3 linked regions of the Homo sapiens genome follow. The protein of the gene in region 1 purifies or fractionates together with the protein of each later gene. This does not show direct contact. Each region holds a gene or a part of one and is shown in the gene's direction. Other genes may lie near its edges.

The links. Proteins that work in one complex are often made in the same cells at the same time.
Region 2: the proteins of TP53INP1 (region 1) and TBC1D4 purify together in Homo sapiens (affinity purification with mass spectrometry; 2 studies listed by BioGRID and IntAct, with this or other methods). This does not show direct contact.
Region 3: the proteins of TP53INP1 (region 1) and ASPM purify together in Homo sapiens (affinity purification with mass spectrometry; 2 studies listed by BioGRID and IntAct, with this or other methods). This does not show direct contact.

What each region holds. Positions count from the first base shown.
Region 1 is NC_000008.11:94,946,379-94,954,404, reverse strand, and holds the start of TP53INP1 (tumor protein p53-inducible nuclear protein 1), read left to right. Parts: upstream 1-5,026; 5' UTR 5,027-5,251; intron 5,252-6,060; exon of another isoform or gene 6,061-8,026. UniProt on the Homo sapiens protein: Antiproliferative and proapoptotic protein involved in cell stress response which acts as a dual regulator of transcription and autophagy. Acts as a positive regulator of autophagy.
Region 2 is NC_000013.11:75,472,170-75,479,169, reverse strand, and holds part of TBC1D4 (TBC1 domain family member 4), read left to right. Parts: intron 1-7,000.
Region 3 is NC_000001.11:197,083,627-197,087,669, reverse strand, and holds the end of ASPM (abnormal spindle-like microcephaly-associated protein), read left to right. Parts: intron 1-697; coding exon 698-867; intron 868-3,243; coding exon 3,244-3,346; 3' UTR 3,347-3,543; downstream 3,544-4,043. UniProt on the Homo sapiens protein: Involved in mitotic spindle regulation and coordination of mitotic processes.

The sequences.
Region 1 (8,026 bases):
GGTGCCTGGCATAGAGTAAGTGCTCATTAAATAACTGTTAAATAGGTCAGGTGTGGTGGTTCATGCCTGTAATCCCAGCACTTTGGGAGGCTGAGGCGGGCGGATCATGAGGTCAAGAGATCAAGACCATCCTGGCCAACATGGTGAAACCCTGTCTCTACTAAAAACACGAAAATTAGCTGGGCTTGGTGGCACACGCCTGTAGTCCCAGCTACTTGGGAGGCTGAGGCAGGAGAATCTCTTGAACCCGGGGGGCGGAGGTTGTAATGAGTGGAGATCACGCCACTGCACTCCAGCCTGGCGACGAAGCGAGATTCCATCTCAAACAAAAAACAAAACAAAAAAATTCATCTTGCAAAATGTAATGGATATTTAAGAGAAATAAATGCCTACTCCTATCAAAGAGGAATAAAGCAGGAAAAGAGGCCCCGAAAGGATACTATAGAAATAAAAAACCTTGCCTTGGATGATCAAAACGTTTAGGCCTGGCTTTGCCAAAGCCATGAGAAACATGGACATTTAAAAGCATAAATTCATCTTGCAAAATGAAATGGATATTTAAGGTAGTTCATTCATGCAAAAAGAAAAAAAAAAGAATCCAATAAACGAGTTTTCCTTAAATAGGTAGATTATTTAGGCAGTGTGTGGCTTATGTAAGTAGTAACCATATCATCTGCATCCTTTTGAGAAGAGCAGAAAGGCACTTGCACTCATGCTGTCACCCTAACAAAGCAATTCATGATTACAGACCCACCTCAGGTTGCCTCTGGCATATGCGGACTGTTGGGCAGTGCCCAGAAGTATCAGTGTGAGTGAAGAAGTCGCTTTGGCAGCGGGAGTTACAAAAGCCCTTTGCTCACACACTTCAACTAATCTCTGACAACCGCCCCAAGAACGAGTCACATCTGCCCCACACAGTGCGCCTCTTCAAGCTTCATGGCTCCTTGGAGCTAGGGTGGTGTATGAAGGGCCATTCTGTATCATGTCTCTAGACCATATCCAGTAAGGGATGACCTTGCTTTCTGCTCAAAGGTTTTTTTTTTGTTTTTTTTTTTCTTGAGATGGAGTTTCCGTCTTGTTGCCCAGGCTGGAGTGCAATGGTGCGATCTCGGCTCATGCAACCTCCGCCTCCCCGGTTCAAGCGATTCTCCTGCCTCAGCTTCCCGAGTAGCTGGGATTACAGGAATGCACCACCATGACCAGCTAATTTTGTATTTTTAGTAGAGACGGGGTTTCTCCATGTTGGTCAGGCTGGTCTTGAACTCCCGACCTCAGGTGATCCACCTGCCTCGGCCTCCCAAAGTGCTGGGATTACAGGCGTAAGCCACCGTGCCCAGCCTCTGCTCTAAGTTTTAACATAAATAATTGGGTTACCTGTACATTCAGCCAGAAACTAAGAAGCCTTGAAAGTACTTTCCAGAAACTAGAGAAAATACTCTAGGCCTGAAGCGATCATTAGTTACAATCCAGCGCAGGCTATCCCACCTCTTGGGGACTCCCCCCTAGCACTGGTTACTGAATGAAGGGGGCCCGCCTCCTTTTTCCTTTCTGCTGCCTCAGCCAGCACACAGACCCTTTTTATTTTAAGGATTTTATTTCTAATCACCACGTGGAAATAGGGTTAAACAAAAAGACAAACATACAAAAGTCACAAAGGTTGCAGGGTCTTGAAAAGCTATTACACTTATGGCCCTGGAATAATTCTTGACTCCTTTCTGAGATGGTAACTGGCAGCCCAGTTAAACGCCTGTTTTCTGTTTTTATTTCAGAAAGCAGAAATCACAGAATCTCTTGCTTCTTTGTTCCAGGCTTTCTGGAGACCCAGTCAGATCCTTTCTTCCCTTAAGACAATAGATGTCACTGGAATGCTAAGTGATTGTTTATCTAAAATGCAATTTAAAAAAATTCTTGTCTTTCCCAGACACTTGGCAACATGCTGTGTCCATGGTAGAAGCCCAGCAGATCCTAACTGTTGATGGGTAGATAGAAAACGACCTAAGTGGACTTCACTTTGCCATTCTCCTCAGTACAGACAGAACAACTTGTTGCTTTGTGTTCTGAGGCTGCCCCAAGTAGCCATCCTATGGGTTGGTAGGAAACAACATTCTTTAGCAGCCTCGATGCAACTGGCAGGGTTATGGCCACAGCCTGCTTTCATAAGCAGGAGGCAGAGGCATTAGTTGCATTGTATCTGTTTGTTGGTGTGAATGTGGTCCTGCACTGTGAGTCTTCCAAACAAAACTTGAGGTTGAATCCCTTTTGTTAGGGTAGATAAGGGAGCGTATTGAGCTCCATGGAAAACAGACAGGAGAACTCTGACAGATGGGGAAAGGGTCACCCCCACAGCAGGGGGTCAGCCTGGAAGTGGGTACTATAGCAACACGCTAAGAATTATTCTGTGAATTAAAGGATGGTTGGATTCACTGGATCTGCCCAGGCAGGGAACCTGGCTGGGTCTTTGTCAGTGAACAGATGAAAAGCTTGCTTGCATTTGTGTAATTTGACAGTTTGGTTGTGTTCAGACAGCTCTACGCTATGGAGATGACATTACTCCTGAGTTTCACTGCATGCATTTATGTAAACCAGTGGCATACCAGGAAGGGAGGCAGTGGGAGTGATCCACCCCAGATACAGGCAGTACACAGTAAATTTGTGTGTCTGCAAAGAATTTTAAAATAAAATTGACTAAAAGTCAGTTTGCTTTTTATTATTATGCTCCAACAGTTCCAAACAATGTCGTGGTAAAGTACTCCTCCCTCCTAGGGACAGACTTCACCTATGCTGCCCTGAGGCACGCCCTCCTTGGTGCACCACTGGGAATAAACAAGCACCAGGTGGGAAGATTATAAATCAGCAAGAGAGTAAACAGAAAGCAAGTGACTCCTGAGACAAGATGTTTTCATCACAAACACTATTTGGTAGAGTTTAGAGTCACTGATCTGTGATGGGCATTTCTGTTAGCTTTGTGTTTTGGTTATCGCTGCTTTAAAAACTACCCCAACATTTAGTGCCTTAAAACAATGATCATTTATTTGTTCACAATGCCGTCATTTTGGCAGTGCTCCGTGGGGATGGCTTATCTCTCCTCTGTTCAGTATGGTGTCTGCTGGAGCTGGAACTTCCTAAGGGCTTTTCCACTCATGTGTCTGGTAGCTCAGCTGGGATGAGCTGAAGAGCTAGAGCTGGCCAGGCATCTCTTTCTTTTCACATAGCCTCTCCCTGTGGCTAGCAGGGTGGTCTCTCCTCATGGGTGGCTGGCATTTTCCAGAGTACAAAGCAGAAGCTGTGGGGTTTGCTTAATGCTTTTGCTTAATGACGAGGCTTGGAAGTCCTAGAACATTCTTTCTGCCACATTCTATTGGTCAGAGCAATCACAGGGTCAGCCCAGATTCAAAGGGAAGAAAAATACACCCACTTCATGATGGAGATACTGTTGTGGTCATCTTTGGAAAAATGATCTACTTCATATTGAATTTTTCTATCATAACAAGATGATGATTTCACATGTTGCTTTAACCATGATAAACCTTATCAAACTGGAAAAAGGTAGGCCTTTTTCTTTTTAAAAATTAGCCCCTTGTAATTGTCATCATACCTTGGTTCTGAATGTGGAGATGGCCTCTTCAATGGATTCCTAGGGAGAAACAAGAGATCATGGGGCTCCTACCATAGCATGTGGGAGAAAATATTAGAACAAGCCTGATTTGCAAAAACCTAAAATCCAAAGCATGTTCAAGTCTGTGAGACTATCTAGAACACAGTTTTAGCTCTTTCTCCCAAGATAAGGTCCAATGACCATCATATTTTGATCATTACTCCTTGGTGTCTGACAACTCCCTGCACTGCAATTTACATCCTTTAAAACCAGCATTGTTGGAAATGGACTGACTACATTGTGAGGGTCAGAATGTGAGTGTCTTTCAGATACTGTAATGTGTGATAGGCATCCCTCCAGGGTTGCTATACAGCTCACCCCAGGTCAAAGAACTACATCCCAGTCCAAACAGTATCCACATGAGAGCTGATAGGCATCAACGTTACTCACCTGCCTTTGCCAGACAGTTAATCCACCTATATGTGGGACAGAGCCTTGGTCTGGAAAACACTTTCAAGCCCACTGTCTCACTCTCTTGTCACTATAAATAACCTGGTGAGTTGGCAGTCCCGGCGTGAATGCCCACAATTTGCAGGTATGCAAACAGAACAGAGGGGCTAAGTTCCGTGGGTCACATGAGAGCTAGGCTGCAGCGCCTGGGGAGGCGGCCGTTCCCGCCCGGTGCGCTTGTTGTCCGCTGGAGCAGAGGCCCCCGAGCCTGCTGACCTCTCTGCCTTCAGGCCTGGTCTCGCAGTCCCTTGTGCCTCGCCTATAGGCAGGCGGAATCCAGAGCGTGCAGCAAGCCCGGCCGGCTCTCGGTGGCGGTTTCTACAGCAGGTGGGGCCTGGCTCCGTGATTGAGCGGCCTCTACCCCTCTATCTGGGGCCCAGCAGCGGCCCCCTCCCAGCACCCTGGCTACACGTCTAACCCTAGGCTGACCAGGTGGGGCTCTCGGAGGCGTTAGCCCCAGCCCTCCCAGGAGTCTTAATGTTCCTCTCACAGGAAAAAACGTTCTGCGCCCTTTGTGCCCCAAACCCTCGACCCTTCACTCGGCGAGAGGGGTCGCTGAGGGAGAGATCCACCTCTGCCCTTCCCGTTGCCCGCCGGTTCTTCCTCGCCCGCCTCTTACGCACCCCGCTCCCGCCGGCTCCTGGAAAGCCGGCCCCGGCCCCAGCGCTTCCCTCCCCGGCCTAGCCCCTCTCTCCCACCCTTCCGCTCGCCCAGGCCTTCACGCTCAGCTCCCGGTTTTTGTTGCCCGGGCTTGTTTCGGAGCTGAGCGCGCCGCCGGCCGGGCGCCAGGTCACGTGCGTTGGTGACAACCTCTCGCAGGGCGGCCCCGGGGCCCCCGCACCGCCGATTGGTGGGGCCCGGCCTGGCGCGGCCCGGGGCGGGGCAGCGGGGCCCGACGGCGAGCGGAGCGGCCGATCAGCTGTTGCGAGCGCTGCACAACAACAAAAGGACTTGGACTGGCCGGCCTGGGCGCAGCGACCCGAGGGCTGGAGCCGGCCCCGCGCCTGCCGTCTGGGTACCTGAACGAGGTGCAGCGCAGCCCGGCCCCACCGCAGCTACCTCAGCAGTCCCGCCCCGCCCGCGTCCTTCCCCGCCGAGCCGGCGGCCGCTCCCTTCCCCGCGCAGCCCCGCACGGCCCGGGCCCACGTAAGTGCCGGGGGGGGGCGGGCGGGCGTCCGTCCAGGGCCGCCTCGCTGCCGGTTGGGGCCGCAGCGCTGCCCGCTCCTGAGCCCGGCGGGGCCGGCCGCGCGCCCTGCCTTCGGGGCGCCGGTTGCGCGTTCACCGAGCCCCCTCGCTGCCTCCCCTCGCCGCCGCCGGGCCCGGCCGCCCACCCAGTGGGTCGGTCCTCGGCGGCCCCCGGGGCCCAGGGCGCGGACAGAGGCTGACAGAGGCGGCGGCGGCGCGGACAAGGGCCCGGCCTGGCCCCGGCGCTGGGCGGCGGTTGGGAGTTTGGTCTCTGCCTCCTCCCCCGAGCGTGGCTTGTTTTCTTGGCCGCGGCGGGACCTCCTCCTCTCACCCCTCCTCACTCCCCTCCACTCCTCCTCCTCCGCCTGCTCTCGGCCGTTGGATGGGGCCGCCCCTTCGGGACTCGGCGTCGGGGCTCCCGCGGCCACCCCCGGGACGCATCTCCGAAGACAGCGGCGCTTGGGCTTGTGGCCCGGCGCTCTGTCCCCGCCCTGCGATCCCGTCCCCTGCGCCTGCCCTCCGAGTTCCGGAGGCCCTGCGGCTATGGGGAACCTGCTCCGTGACCCGGCCACCGGCCCCCGCCTGTCCGCGGCCTGTCCCTTGCTTGACCTGGCTTGAACTCAGTCTTCGCTACCTGACTTTGCACCTGTGGAAAGAGCGCTCTCCTTGGCCCTTAACATTTAGATCCTTTGGATCGCTCACGCTTACTGAGCGCTGAGTATGTGCCATATACTATGCTGGGGGCTTTGCTTTATCGCCCCAGTTGATTCTCATAATAACCTTATATGAAATAGGCCCGGCTATCTTACACATAGGAAACCCGAGGCACAGAGAGATTAAGTTGCTCAAGGCCACACAGCCAATTAATAAAAGGAAATGGTGTTTGTATTTCAAAGTGGCAGCTGAATTTTACCTGGAGAGTCTGTTTTGCTTGTATTTTCTGATTATATCTGCTCAGTAGGTTAATTCCAATACAGAGTGGATTAAGGAAGAGCCTCTTTACAACTGTGACTCCCAAGGACTTGGGCATCTATTGCTAAAAAAGCCTTTTCTCAATGCACAATAGTTTTGGGAAAAGGGGGAACAATGTGACCCTTGGGGTCACTGAACAGAAGTCATAATGAGTTCCCCCACGATACTGAAATCACCAGCCTGGTAATTGAAATACATTTTCATTTGCAGATGTGAAAAGCACTGGGAAGCTTTTAAGTCGCAATCAGTGTAATTCTGAACTGGCAGCATAATTTTAAAAGGCCCCTGCCTGGAACCAGGACCTTACTAATTTCTGTGACCAAGGTCTTGTTTTCTCATCCTATCTTTTGTTCTTTCCTGCCATTGCTTCCTCTGATGTCTGCTTTCAAAATTCAAGATTATCAGGCTATGAATTACCACTTACTCTTGTCTTTGTCCACTGTCTTTCAGCCTTAGGGGCAGACAGGGGTGGATCCCTGGGGGAATAACCTCCCTTGCACACTAGTTGAACAGTCTTCACATAAGTGGAACAAGCAAAGACAACTTTTTTGGCTTGGTTTTTTCTGCAGTTCAAAATCCATTTTAAATTACTTGAATCTAGTCTTCATATAAGTGGAACAAGCAGAGATAACTTTCTTGGCTTGGTTTTTCTCCAGTTCAAAACCCATTTTAAATTACTAGAATCTGCACGTTTTTAAAGTAGTGGAAGAGGGTGGGATAAAAAGAAGGATAATTCTGAAGCTGCTTTTCAATGACGGTACGTTTAGCCACCTGATTTCCTGAAACTGTGAAGGAGCCACAACTGTACACAGATTTAGAAGTTAGATCATCAAACTTGCGGGTTTTTTTTTTTTTTTTAATATTTTTTGGAGCCGCCTACTGGCAGCTGAAACTAACTGAAAAGGGCTGTTTTCTGAAGTTCGTAGACCCATAGTTGAGACTGGGAGCCTAAAAGAGCATGTATAGGGAAAACAAGGAATTGGAATCAGATGGATTTTTGCCCTAATGCTGACTCCACCCCAACCAACTCTGTCACTTTTGAACAAGTTAGTTAATTCCTCAGCCTCGGTTTCCTCATCAGTAAAATGGGACAAATAAGTACTTCAAGGCCCCGTTACATACAATAAGCATTCTGTAAATTGTAGCTCTAATTATTAAGTAGACATTTTATGGATAAAGAAACTCAAATGCAGCGATGCTAAATGACTTGTTGACAGTCTCACAACTGGCTTTGAATGAACCGAGGTCTGCTATTCTAAGTAGTATACACTTAATCCTTACACTGGCACTGTGAAGTAGGTATTATAACTATCATTCCCATGTTAAGGATGAGAAAACAGAGACACCAAGATGTTAGTAAATATCCTGAATTCACATAGGTTGCAAGTAGCAGAGCCAAGATTTCAAACTCCAGGGCCTGTCTTTTTTTTTTTTTTTTTTTTTTTTGAGACAGGGTCTTACTCTGTTGACCAGGCTGGAGTGTAGTGGTGGGATCACAACTCACTGCAGCTTCAAACTCATGGGCTCAAGCGATCCTCCTACCTCAGCCTCCCTGGTAGCTGGGACTACATGCACATACCACCACACCCAGCTAATTTATTTTTTGTAGAGATGGGGTCTTGCTTTGTTGCCCAGGCTGGTCTTGAACTCCTGGCTTAAAGTGATCCTCCTGCCTTGGCATCCCAAAGCACTGGGATTATAGACATGAGCCACTGCGCCCAGCCTCAGAGCCAGTCTTTAAGTACCACAATATACTGCCTCTTG
Region 2 (7,000 bases), on another chromosome or scaffold:
AAACTCAAATAACAAAGAAGAGGGTTGAGTGAGGACCATGGAGGACTGGATAGTGGGTGGCCTTTCTCAAGGTGCTACTTAGCTCCACTTGGAAATTGCATGAATAGGATGCAAGTCTAGCGTTGCTAGAGCTGCTGATTTCCCAAGAGAGAGTGGAAATCTGAATTTTTATATATGACCCCGCATTTTAAAGTACTGGCAAATATTGTAAACATTTAAGAATCCTATCTGGGCCAAACAATACACATCTGAGAGATGGCTTTAGAGATCCATGAGCGGCCACTTTTGATCTTTGGCATAAATATTTGTTGAGTGGACAAGCGCAGTCATTGACACTATGTGCTGTTTGCTGTATTTCCTTTAGAGCATCCAGGTTCATTTGATATGGCTGTCATAGTAGGGGAAGCTGGGACCATCCTTTTTGAAGAATTTAGCAGAAAAATTCCCAGAAGTGTTGATTCTGCAGCTAGACATGTTAAAGGGGTCAGTTCAACATATTATCATCCAGCAGTATGCTTCATGCAGAGTTGGCTGTGGATAGTTCTAGGGACCCTTGAAATCAGAAGGAAGACCTGCTGTTTGCTTTGTTCTGAGTTCTATATTTGAAGTGGAGAATTATTTATTTGGACTTAAGATCATTGTTAAGAGAGTCTCCTAAGTGTTTCCCTCAGTCCTCGACAGAGTCTATAAAGTCTACAAACGTAGCCTAGAGCAGTAGACCTGCAAACATCCCCTAACATACTTGTCTGTGGTTTGTCTGTCATGCCTATTCCTTTAATGCAATGGCCCTATCTGTTGGATGACCGTATACTTTATTGTTTGATATGGGACAATTTTATTGTCAAAAGGGGCACCACTAATAATTATACAAGCACTGTGAGTAATAAACCTGGACTGTTGAGGACAAACCGAGATATATGGTCACCATGGCAAAGTTTGTGTTCATGCAGAGCCACCGAGTTGGAGGATTGTGGTTACTAATATAAAATGATAATGTTTTCAAGAGTATCTACTCACATATTGGAGTTGGATCTACATTTGACCTTAGAGCTGGGAGTGCTGTACTAATCGCTTGGGGGTCTGTTGTGGGGAGTTGCCACAGTGATGTGTTCCCTCTTGGCTCCACACCTCCCTTTGGGTCAGAGTCAATTTAAGGATGTGTGTCAGGAGAAGCATTCAACCAGAATGGCTCAATGCACCACTGTTTCTCCAAGGTGCAAAGAGAAATGGAGATGGGGGTGAAATGTATGCCAATGCAGATCTGTCTCTAGTCAAGCCTATGTAGTCTTATACAGGAGGAATGTCAGGCTTAGCACATTTCAGCTAAACTTGAATATTTGAACTGGGAAAAGGGCTTAATCCCATTGGCATGAAGTGAATTACAGACTTAAACTGATTGGGGAAACAAGAATATCTGATTCTCTCCCAAAGGTCTAGGATAGGTCACTAATACTCTGTAAATATTTATCCACTTGCAAAAAGAGTCTGTATGGCATTACCCAAATTTTTCTGTTAAAAAGTTATTTTATGTTATACATACATTACTACAATAAAAAATAAAGCAGGAGTTGTTATTGAAAATATGAGACTTTGTTATGTTAATTTTTAATTAACATTTGCCTGTGAGTTTTGAAGCATCATTATGTTTTATAATTATAGGATGAACAATCATTTAAAAGGTAAAAACATGATTGTTATAATGTTTATTGGTTGTTTTTGTGTATTATTTACTGAAGCTTGCAAGAATGATTTTAAAGAGACTTTACAAATTGTGTTCTTAAGATTAAAAAAAGGAATTTAATGCCAGTGTTTTCCCAACTCTCAGTTCTCTTAAAAACGTGTATTACTATCTGAGCTTTATTCACGTAACCAGTTTTTTTGTCAATATATTTTTAGAAGGTCATTTTTCAGTTCTTTTTCAAAGTTGATGGTTAGTAGCTTTGAGAATATACTAGTAAGAATACCAGAGAAATTGAAACCTGGAAGATTTCACCTCTCTGTGCTTTCTAAGAAGTTTGTTCTGTGGACAGATAGATCTATCTCTTTTTTTGTAATCATTTTTTATTCTCTCTCCTCCTTGCAGTCTGAAGTGGAGGTTAATTTGCCTTGGCTCTGTGGTAGAATCTTGACTGCAATATCTGGCGGAAAGGCACAAACATAGCCCAGAGACTCCCAGCCACAATGGAGCACATTATGATAGGAGCCCTAAGCTGAAAATTGAAGGTGTTCAGTGTCAGGGCTTGATTATCAGAAACCAGAGATTCTCAAACTTCAGTGTGTGTGTCAGAATTACCTAGAGGGCTTCTTAAAAGAGACCACTGGACCCTACCCTCAATTTCTGATTTAACAAGTTCTCTGGTGATGCTCAAACTACTGGCCGGGTGACCACAGTTTTAGAAACCCTGTGCTAAGTTATTTGGTTCATTTGGTTGGCTGTATGACCATTTCTGTTCCCCTGGATATTTTTGTAGTCTTTCTCAGACTTGAAAGTTCAAGTGGAATGTGAGGAGAAATAATATTTGACTCTGGAATATTTTTAAGAAGCTCTTCATCTTCTAGCTTAATGATTTGCCTGTCCTTTCCCTGATATAGACATTATTCTGCCAGACATCATAAGACCATGCAAATGTTGAATGAAAACTTTGCCTTTCAGCCAAAAGTTTTAAGTTCTGCAGGTGGAATAAACAGTTCATTTTGAGGGGAATACAGATAACCTAAAAATCTGAAGTCCAAAGTGTTTTAACGTCAGAAACGTTTTGAGCATCAACATGACACTACAGGTGGAAAATTCTTCACCTGATTTCATGAGATCACAGTCAAAACACACAAAATTATTAAACATATTGTATAAAATTACCTTGAGGCTATGTGTATAAGGTGTATAGAAACACAAATGAAGTTTTTTTGTTGTTGTTGTTTATTTTTTTGAGGTGGAGTCTCGCACTGTCGCCCAGGCTGGAGTGCAGTGGCGCGATCTCGGCTCACTGCAACCTCCACCTCTCAGGTTCAAGTGATTCTCCTGCCTCAGCCACCCAAGTAGCTGGGATTATAGGAGTGCACCACCACGCCCAGCTAATTTTTGTATTTTTAGTAGAGACGGGGTTTCACCATATTGGCCAGGCTGGTCTCAAACTCCTGACCTCAAGTGATCTGCCCGCCTGGGCCTCCCAAAGTGCTGGGATTACAGGTATGAGCCTCTGCACCCAGCCAGAAACATAAATGAATTTTATACTTAGACTTGGGTCTCATCCTTAAGATATCTCATTATGTATATGCAAATATTCCAAAATCTGAAAAAAAAATTCAAAATCTGAAACACTTCTGTTCCCAAGTATGTTGGATAAGTGATACGCAACCCATATATCCTAATTTCAGATTATGATAGTTTTTGAAAAAATTAAAGCTTGATTTACAGCCTGAGAAATAACACCATTCAGTAAGGCAGAGACTGTTCACATGCCCTTTTCTCATTTTGGAATGAGTAATTGCTTGGTGAGGAAACTGATGATTTCCATGAATTTTCTAGATTATCTGGTATATTATTTACCTCATAAGTAAAAGAATCAAGTCAGAAAAATAGCAGCATGCTTAGTATACTGGCTATTAAGAAAATCATGCAAAAAGAAGTAGAGTTGGGCAATTTAGTGAATAAGATAATGGCCAGCCTAAATAATTACTGCAAACAATTTTATTTACTTAAAAAAACCTCAAGGCTTCTGTTTGTTTAAAAATATCTGGCTGGTAGTTTCAGAGTCCCCTTTCCTTTAGACTACATTGGCATGTCTGAACCAAGCCAACATGCAGTTACTTGGATGTAGCCCCTTGGAAAGTGAAGAACAGCTCAATTATGATTTAATGTAATAGTATATTCAGACTTATTTGACCAAGTAAAGGATTTTTCTTGACATATGGTCTGCATAAAATATGTATACAAATTGAATACCTCACTGGGATGTGCCAACTCTAAGGATGTCATTGGCTTGTTACTTTAAGGTTGGAATATGGTATGTAATATGGTATGTTGACATTGCACTGTCAAGTTTGTCTGAGTAGCTCCTTAATGCATTTCCTTAAAAGTGAACGTTTATTGAGCTCTTCCTGGGTGATAGCACTACTCTCACTGCTTCTCTTAGGAGATCACCCTTTAGCTTCACAGTAACTGGGTGAAGTACGTACCAGTATTTCCTTCATTTTATAGATGAGAAAACTGAGATATAGAAAGGTTAAATTATGGGCCGGGCGTGGTGGCTCATGCCTGTAATCCCAGCACTTTGGGAGGCTGAGGCAGGCGGGTCACCTGAGGTCAGGAGTTCGAGACCAGACTGGCCAACATGGTGAAACCCCATCTCTACTAAAAATACAAAAATTAGCCAGGTATGGTGGCATACGCCTGTAATCACAGCTACTTGGGAGGCTGAGGCAGGAGAATCGCTTGAACCTGGGAGATGGAGGTTGCAGTGAGCCTGGATCGTACCACTGCACTTTAGCTTGGGCGACAAAGTGAGATTAAAAAAAAAAAAAAAGGTTAAATTATTTCTCCAAGGTCACAAGACCTTGGTAGAAGCATATTTCTATCCAGGCAGATTCTAAAGCTTGTTTTCTTTTCTTTTTGAGACGGAGTCTGACTCTGTCGCCCAGGCTGGAGTGCAGTGGCGCAATCTCGGCTCACTGCAAGCTCCGCCTTCCGGGTTCACGCCATTCTCCTGCCTCAGCCTCCCGAATAGCTGGGACTACAGGCACCCGCCACCACGCCTGGCTAATTTTTTGTATTTTTGGTAGAGACGGGGTTTCACCGTGTTAGCCAGGATGGTCTCGATTTCCTGACCTCGTGATCCGCCCGCATAGGCCTCCCAAAGTGCTGGGATTACAGGCGTGAGCCACTGTGCCCGGCCAGTTTTCTTACCTGCTACACTAGAATGCAGTTATTGAAAATTAGTTTTTAGTTGTTGGTCTTATCAGCTTTTATACTATCACTTTTTCCTACTCATATTAAAAATCTCCACAGGTAAATATGCTTATTAAGTTTGTAAAATAATAATTAGTGCTGAATGCACACTTGGGTATAGTTATGCCAGTATGTACTTTCCATTTTAAGGGGAAATAAAAAAAGTTTGTTTGATTTGTTGGGCTGGTAAGGCTGAACTCTGGTGTACCTTTGATTTAGTGTCTTTAAGTATGGCGGGGGAATAAACTATGAGTCTATAGTATTTATAACCATTATAATTTTAGGTTAGAATAAAAGATCATTAGGATCTACATTTAAAAACAAGTAAACCATGAATTTGAATTTATTTTATTGAATTATAAAGTATATGAATATCTTTTAATATGTCTTTGATATCTGTGATTATATGACAGGGACAAAATATAGGATTAAAACTTTGGTTGGTTTCATTTCAGATAATCTTGCCATAGGTTTGTGCAGTCTCAGCAGAAGGAAATCAGGGTTGTTATTACTGTTTTACTGATCTCTTCCAAGTTTCACTTCTTGCAAGATGTTGGGGTTGGAAAGAGGATCTCTAAGTAATGGAATCTTTCTGGCTAAAAATAGGAGCCTACATTGGCTGCTGCTTTAGCGTTTTTATTTTGTGGATACCCTTAACCAGTTGAATAGTCTTCACTTTTAACTTTTGTGAATTTTCACACAAATTTTAAAAATTCTCTAAGTTAGGACCATGGAAACTTTGTGCTATCAATATTACATAATTTGTGAATAGTTTACTATCAGTCTCAGATTCTAAGTCAAACACAGTGCTTCTGGTCGAACAAATCTAGAAATCTTCTGTATCTCACAATTGTATCTTCTTTTGTATCTTACAATTGTATCTTCATATATATTTTTAATAATGGGTTATGTAACTTGGACAAATACATTTATGGCTGGGACCTTTTAAAATTCAGTAAAAATTGGGAGGCCGAAGCAAGCAAATCATTTGAGACCAGGAGTTTGAGACCAGCCTGGCCAACACAGTGAAACCCCATCTCTTCTAAAAAAATAGCAAAAATTAGCCAGGTGTGGTGGTGCATGCCTGTAATCCCAGCTACCCAGGAGGAGGCTGAGGCATGAGAATTGCTTGAACCTGGGAAGTGGAGGTTGCAGTGAGCCGTGATTGTGCCACTGCACTCCAACCTGGGCGACAGCTTACTCTGTCTCCAAATAAATAAATAAATATCAATGAGTAAATTGTTTTTGGTCCTTACATGGCTCCCAGCTTTTTCAACTCATCTCTTGCCTTGGTTTCAGTCATTTAATTCCCATTGGCTGGGCAGTCTGAGAGCTTTTCCTGAGTTTACCTGAATTAAACTGATAGCCTTTCTCCTTGATTCTCCAGGTAATTATTGCTCCCAGATTTCCAGTAGCAAGTTCTTTAGGAGACTAGTTTGGATCCCTCATTATTCTGTGTTGGAACTCCCTGATTCTGCTGCTCCCTTTGAAGACCACCCAATGCTTGTTGCCTAACTCTTTACAGATTGTGCACTACTTGCCTGATTGGATTTCTTTCTAGTCATGGAAGCTGGCCTTCTTTTTCCTGAGAGAGTATCTAGTTATGGTCCTCGCCCCTTCCTGTTAGCTCCTTCTAAGGCTGTTAACAGATTTTATTTGCAGACAGATTTTATTTTGTACAGATTTTATTTTGGCTGTCGTATGGAATTTTGTAAAAGCCTGTTGGCATGAACATAGTGGTGGTGGTGGGCATGACCCTTTTAAATCCATCCACAATTCTTTTTTTTATTTTTATTTTTTTTCTCTGAGACGGAGTCTTGCTTTGTCACCCAGGCTGGAATGCAGTGGCGTGATCTCGGCTCACTGCAACCTCCGCCTCCCAGGTTCAAGCAGTTCTCCTGCCTCTGCCTCCTGAGTAGCTGGGACTACAGGCGCCTGCCAGCACACCCAGCTAATTTTTGTATTTTTAGTAGATACGGAGTTTCACCATGTTGGCCAGGCTGTTCTCTCTTGACCTCATGATCCGACCACTTCAGCCTCCCAAAATGCTGGGAT
Region 3 (4,043 bases), on another chromosome or scaffold:
CAAGAGATTGTGCTTGTCTTAGGATTGTGTCGCTGAGAGGTAAGTAGAAGACTTTGGAAACTGCAGAGGTAAACTTTTCAAGACTTGGTAACTGGATATGATAGGTGTGTTGACTATAATTGCTATGTTGACTATAATAATTCCTTCTTATATTCAGTGTGGAGTTAAGTATGCAACTTTTGAATATTTATCTTCCTTATAATTGCCTTGCAAATTAGCTCGTAATTTAAATCAATCTACCTGCCAAACTTGGTGAGGTTTCTTTGATTATTCAAAGCTTAAAAGTTTACTGCAGGCTGGGCACGGTGGCTCACGCCTGTAATCCCAGCACTTTGGGAGGCTGAGGTAGGCAGATCACGAGGTCAGGAGATTGAGACCATCCTGGCTCACACGGTGAAACTCCATCTCTACTAAAAATACAAAAAAAATTAGCCGGGTGTGGTGGCGGGTGCCTGTAATCCCAGCTACTTGGGAGACTGAGGCAGGAGAATGGCGTGAACCCGGGAGGCAGAGATTGCATTGAGCTAAGATCGCACCACTGCACTTCAGCCTGGGCGACAGAGCAAGAGAGACCATCTCAAAAAAGAAAAAAAAAAGGTTTACTGCATAGTTTTTATTATATTTGATTTTGCTAGTCTAAAAGAGATAAAATTTTAATTCTTATTACTTTTTAGTAACTGTGCATTTTATTTTGTAGGATGTACGAAGTAGGTCCAAAGTTGTTGACCGTATTTACAGTCTCTACAAACTTACAGCTCATAAACATAAAATGAATACTGAAAGAATACTTTACAAGCAAAAGAAGAATTCTTCTATAAGCATTCCTTTTATCCCAGAAACACCTGTAAGGACCAGAATAGTTTCAAGGTAAGCAATTAAATATAGTCCATAAATTTGTGTCACTGTTCATTCATTCATTTAACAAATATTTATTGAGCACTTACCATAAACAAGATGTGCTTTTCAGTGGAGAAACAACATATGAATAAGAATGGAATGTTTGGTAAATTTAAAAGAAGCAGTCTTGGTAAATAAAGAAATAACATTATACTGTAGCTTTGGACATTTAATAGTTATTCAACAAACTTCTTATATTAAATAGTTAAGAGCTAAGGCTAAGAAGCTTGTTATAAGTTTTGTCATTTTATTTTATTTATTTTATTTTGCATGAAAGACAAACTACACTGTTTAAGAAGTGCCAAAAGTCCTTCTTAGCCAAAATATCAACCTCCAGTCCTCCCATAATCACCCTGATTCTTGAAATTTCTCCTTCTGGAAATTTAGATTGACATTTTCTGATTTTATTGGCAAAAAGATTTAATTTATTTTGGTGAACCGTCATGGCATTTAATTAGTGTTTTTACTCCCTTCCTTCTTTCTCCCTCCTCCTTTTTTTCTTCCCCCTTCTCCCTCTCTCCCTCCCTTCCTTCCTTCTTTCCTTCTTGAGACTTAGCAATTCTCTATACTAGGTACAAATCCTACATTATTGACAACACACTATTTCTTGACCTGAGTGGTTACACAGCCATTAGCTTTATAATTATACTCATAATTATAAACTGTATAATGTAGTTATAAATTGGTTTTATGCATGCATATTTCACAGCATAATGTAAAGTTCATTTGCTTGAAATATATTAATGGGACCATTTCTACATGTTTTTTAAGGACTTGGTAGAATTTAATATTCATTATGTTTTAAAAGCTCATACTAACATATGAATGGATTCTCTTAAAATTTTGATGTAGGTCAGGCTTTTGAGGTAAAATTTACTGACAGTATAAATGCATCCTTTAAATGTATGCAATTCAATTCGTTTTGACAAATGTATACAGTTAGGAAACTACCACCACTGAGATACAAAATATTTCTGTAACACAAAGTTTCCTTATGCCCCTTTGTTGTCAGTTCTCTTTCTTTATTCCCTGGATTTTGGGAACTACTGATCTGATTTTTGTACCTTTAGTTTTGCCATTTCTATACTGTCACATATATGGAATCATATAGTAGATAGCTTTTTGTGACTGGATTCTTTTCCTTAGCATAATGCTTTTGAAATTCGTTCATGTTTATGCATGGATTTGAATTTCATTCCTTTCTATCACTTAGTACTATTCCATTGTATGGTCGTACCACACTTTGTTCACTCACCAATTGATATATCTTTGGATTTTTAGCAGGACAAAATAAGATGATGGAAATGCATATAGTAGGGAATTATGTGAGAAGATGCATGAACTCCCTCGGTTTGATACTATTTTCTCAATAAGTTTGAGATTATAAACTCAACAACTCAGAAGCAGCTCAGAGGGTATGGAGGGGAAGTTTGAAAAGAGGAAAGGACCAAGATAGTCATCTTGGAGAGAAAGGGAGCATGCTGGCAATTTCAAATGCTCATTTTAGATTTGTAATTATTGGCAAAAAATAAAATCAGCTTGGTTGTGTAAACATTTTTAGTAATATGCAGCTGTATAGGAATGGAGAAGGCAGATATTTTGACTCAATTTGAAATCCAAGTAGAATTCTTCAGACTAGTTTGGTAGGAGAGAGAGACAACAGTTAATGGCATTTGCAAAGGTTTTGATAATACTGATGCACCTGAGCTAGATACACAGGAAAGTAAGGACAGCATTCTGGTGGATGTTGGGTATGTGTTGAGGCCAAATGAAGTGGAGATCTCAGTGGGGTAGAAGAACTGGTTCAATGACTGTGTTAGAGCATATGACATGGATGAATCAGAAATGGTGGATGGAGAATGGAAGTCTCAAGATTTCAGTGGTCGCACACTTTCTGATGATGACAAAGTCTAGTATGTGATCATATTAAAAAGGATTGGTTGAGGTAGAATTGAAGGAAAGTGGGGCAAAAACGGACTAGGTTGTTGGCTTTTTGGCCACATAGATGTTGCTGTTGCTGAGAACGGTGACAGTAGGTAAGAGGAGAACAAGAACCAGGTTTACAAGGAATAAGACACTGAGAGTTTGGCTGATGACCAAAAGGCAGTGGTCAAGCTAAATAGCATAAGCTTCAAAGAAGCCAGCATTATTTTTTAGAAAGGATGGAGAGAAATAGTCTGGAACTAGTGATGGGCAATAATATGAAGTTCTCCCACCTCTTTGAGCAGTTTGTAAGGGAAATGATGTGTTCAGGAGTAGCTACAATTTAGTTAAGAGAAAAAAGGTGAAGGTAACTCTAAAGAGAAGAACTTTATTAATGCCAGACTTTTTTTTTTTTTTTAACAGACTTAAGCCAGATTGGGTTTTGAGAAGAGATAACATGGAAGAAATCACAAATCCCCTGCAAGCTATTCAAATGGTGATGGATACGCTTGGCATTCCTTATTAGTAAATGTAAACATTTTCAGTATGTATAGTGTAAAGAAATATTAAAGCCAATCATGAGTACGTAAAGTGATTTTTGCTCTCCGTGTACAACTTTTAAAATCTGACTTTGTTTTAAAAAAACATAAACTGTTCATTACATTCTTCATTTTTATCATTTATAGTTTTATGCATGTAATAAACTAATATGTCATAAGATGATTATATTATTCCTGTCTATTATCTTAAAGTATTATAGTAGTTTCAATGTAATCTTATTACTAAAAGGAAATAATAGCTGATTACACCTTTTTTATAGGTAAGTTGAGGAATTTTCATAAAACAAATGTTAGAAATTGAAGTTCTGTCTACTCACTAAGAAGTGAGACTAGGATAAAATAATCTCACAAATTCATATCAATGGCATCCTTATCTATATCCTTGACTGGCTAAAGCATCCAGATAAGCAAGTGAGCCCTTCTAGGCTCACAAAAAGAATACACCCACCACTGTATTTACTAAAAATTCTTACCATTGAACTGATGGGGGTTATAATTTGAAGTGGAAGGAACATGCTATTGCTTATAATAGAATCTTGTTGTGTAGTTATACACCACAGACCTGAAAATGATTCAGTATTGAAATGTGATTTTTTTTCTACTCTTTGAGTCACTATTACTAGTATCTGTGGTTTCAGGGCCACAGATGTCTAATTCTTATGG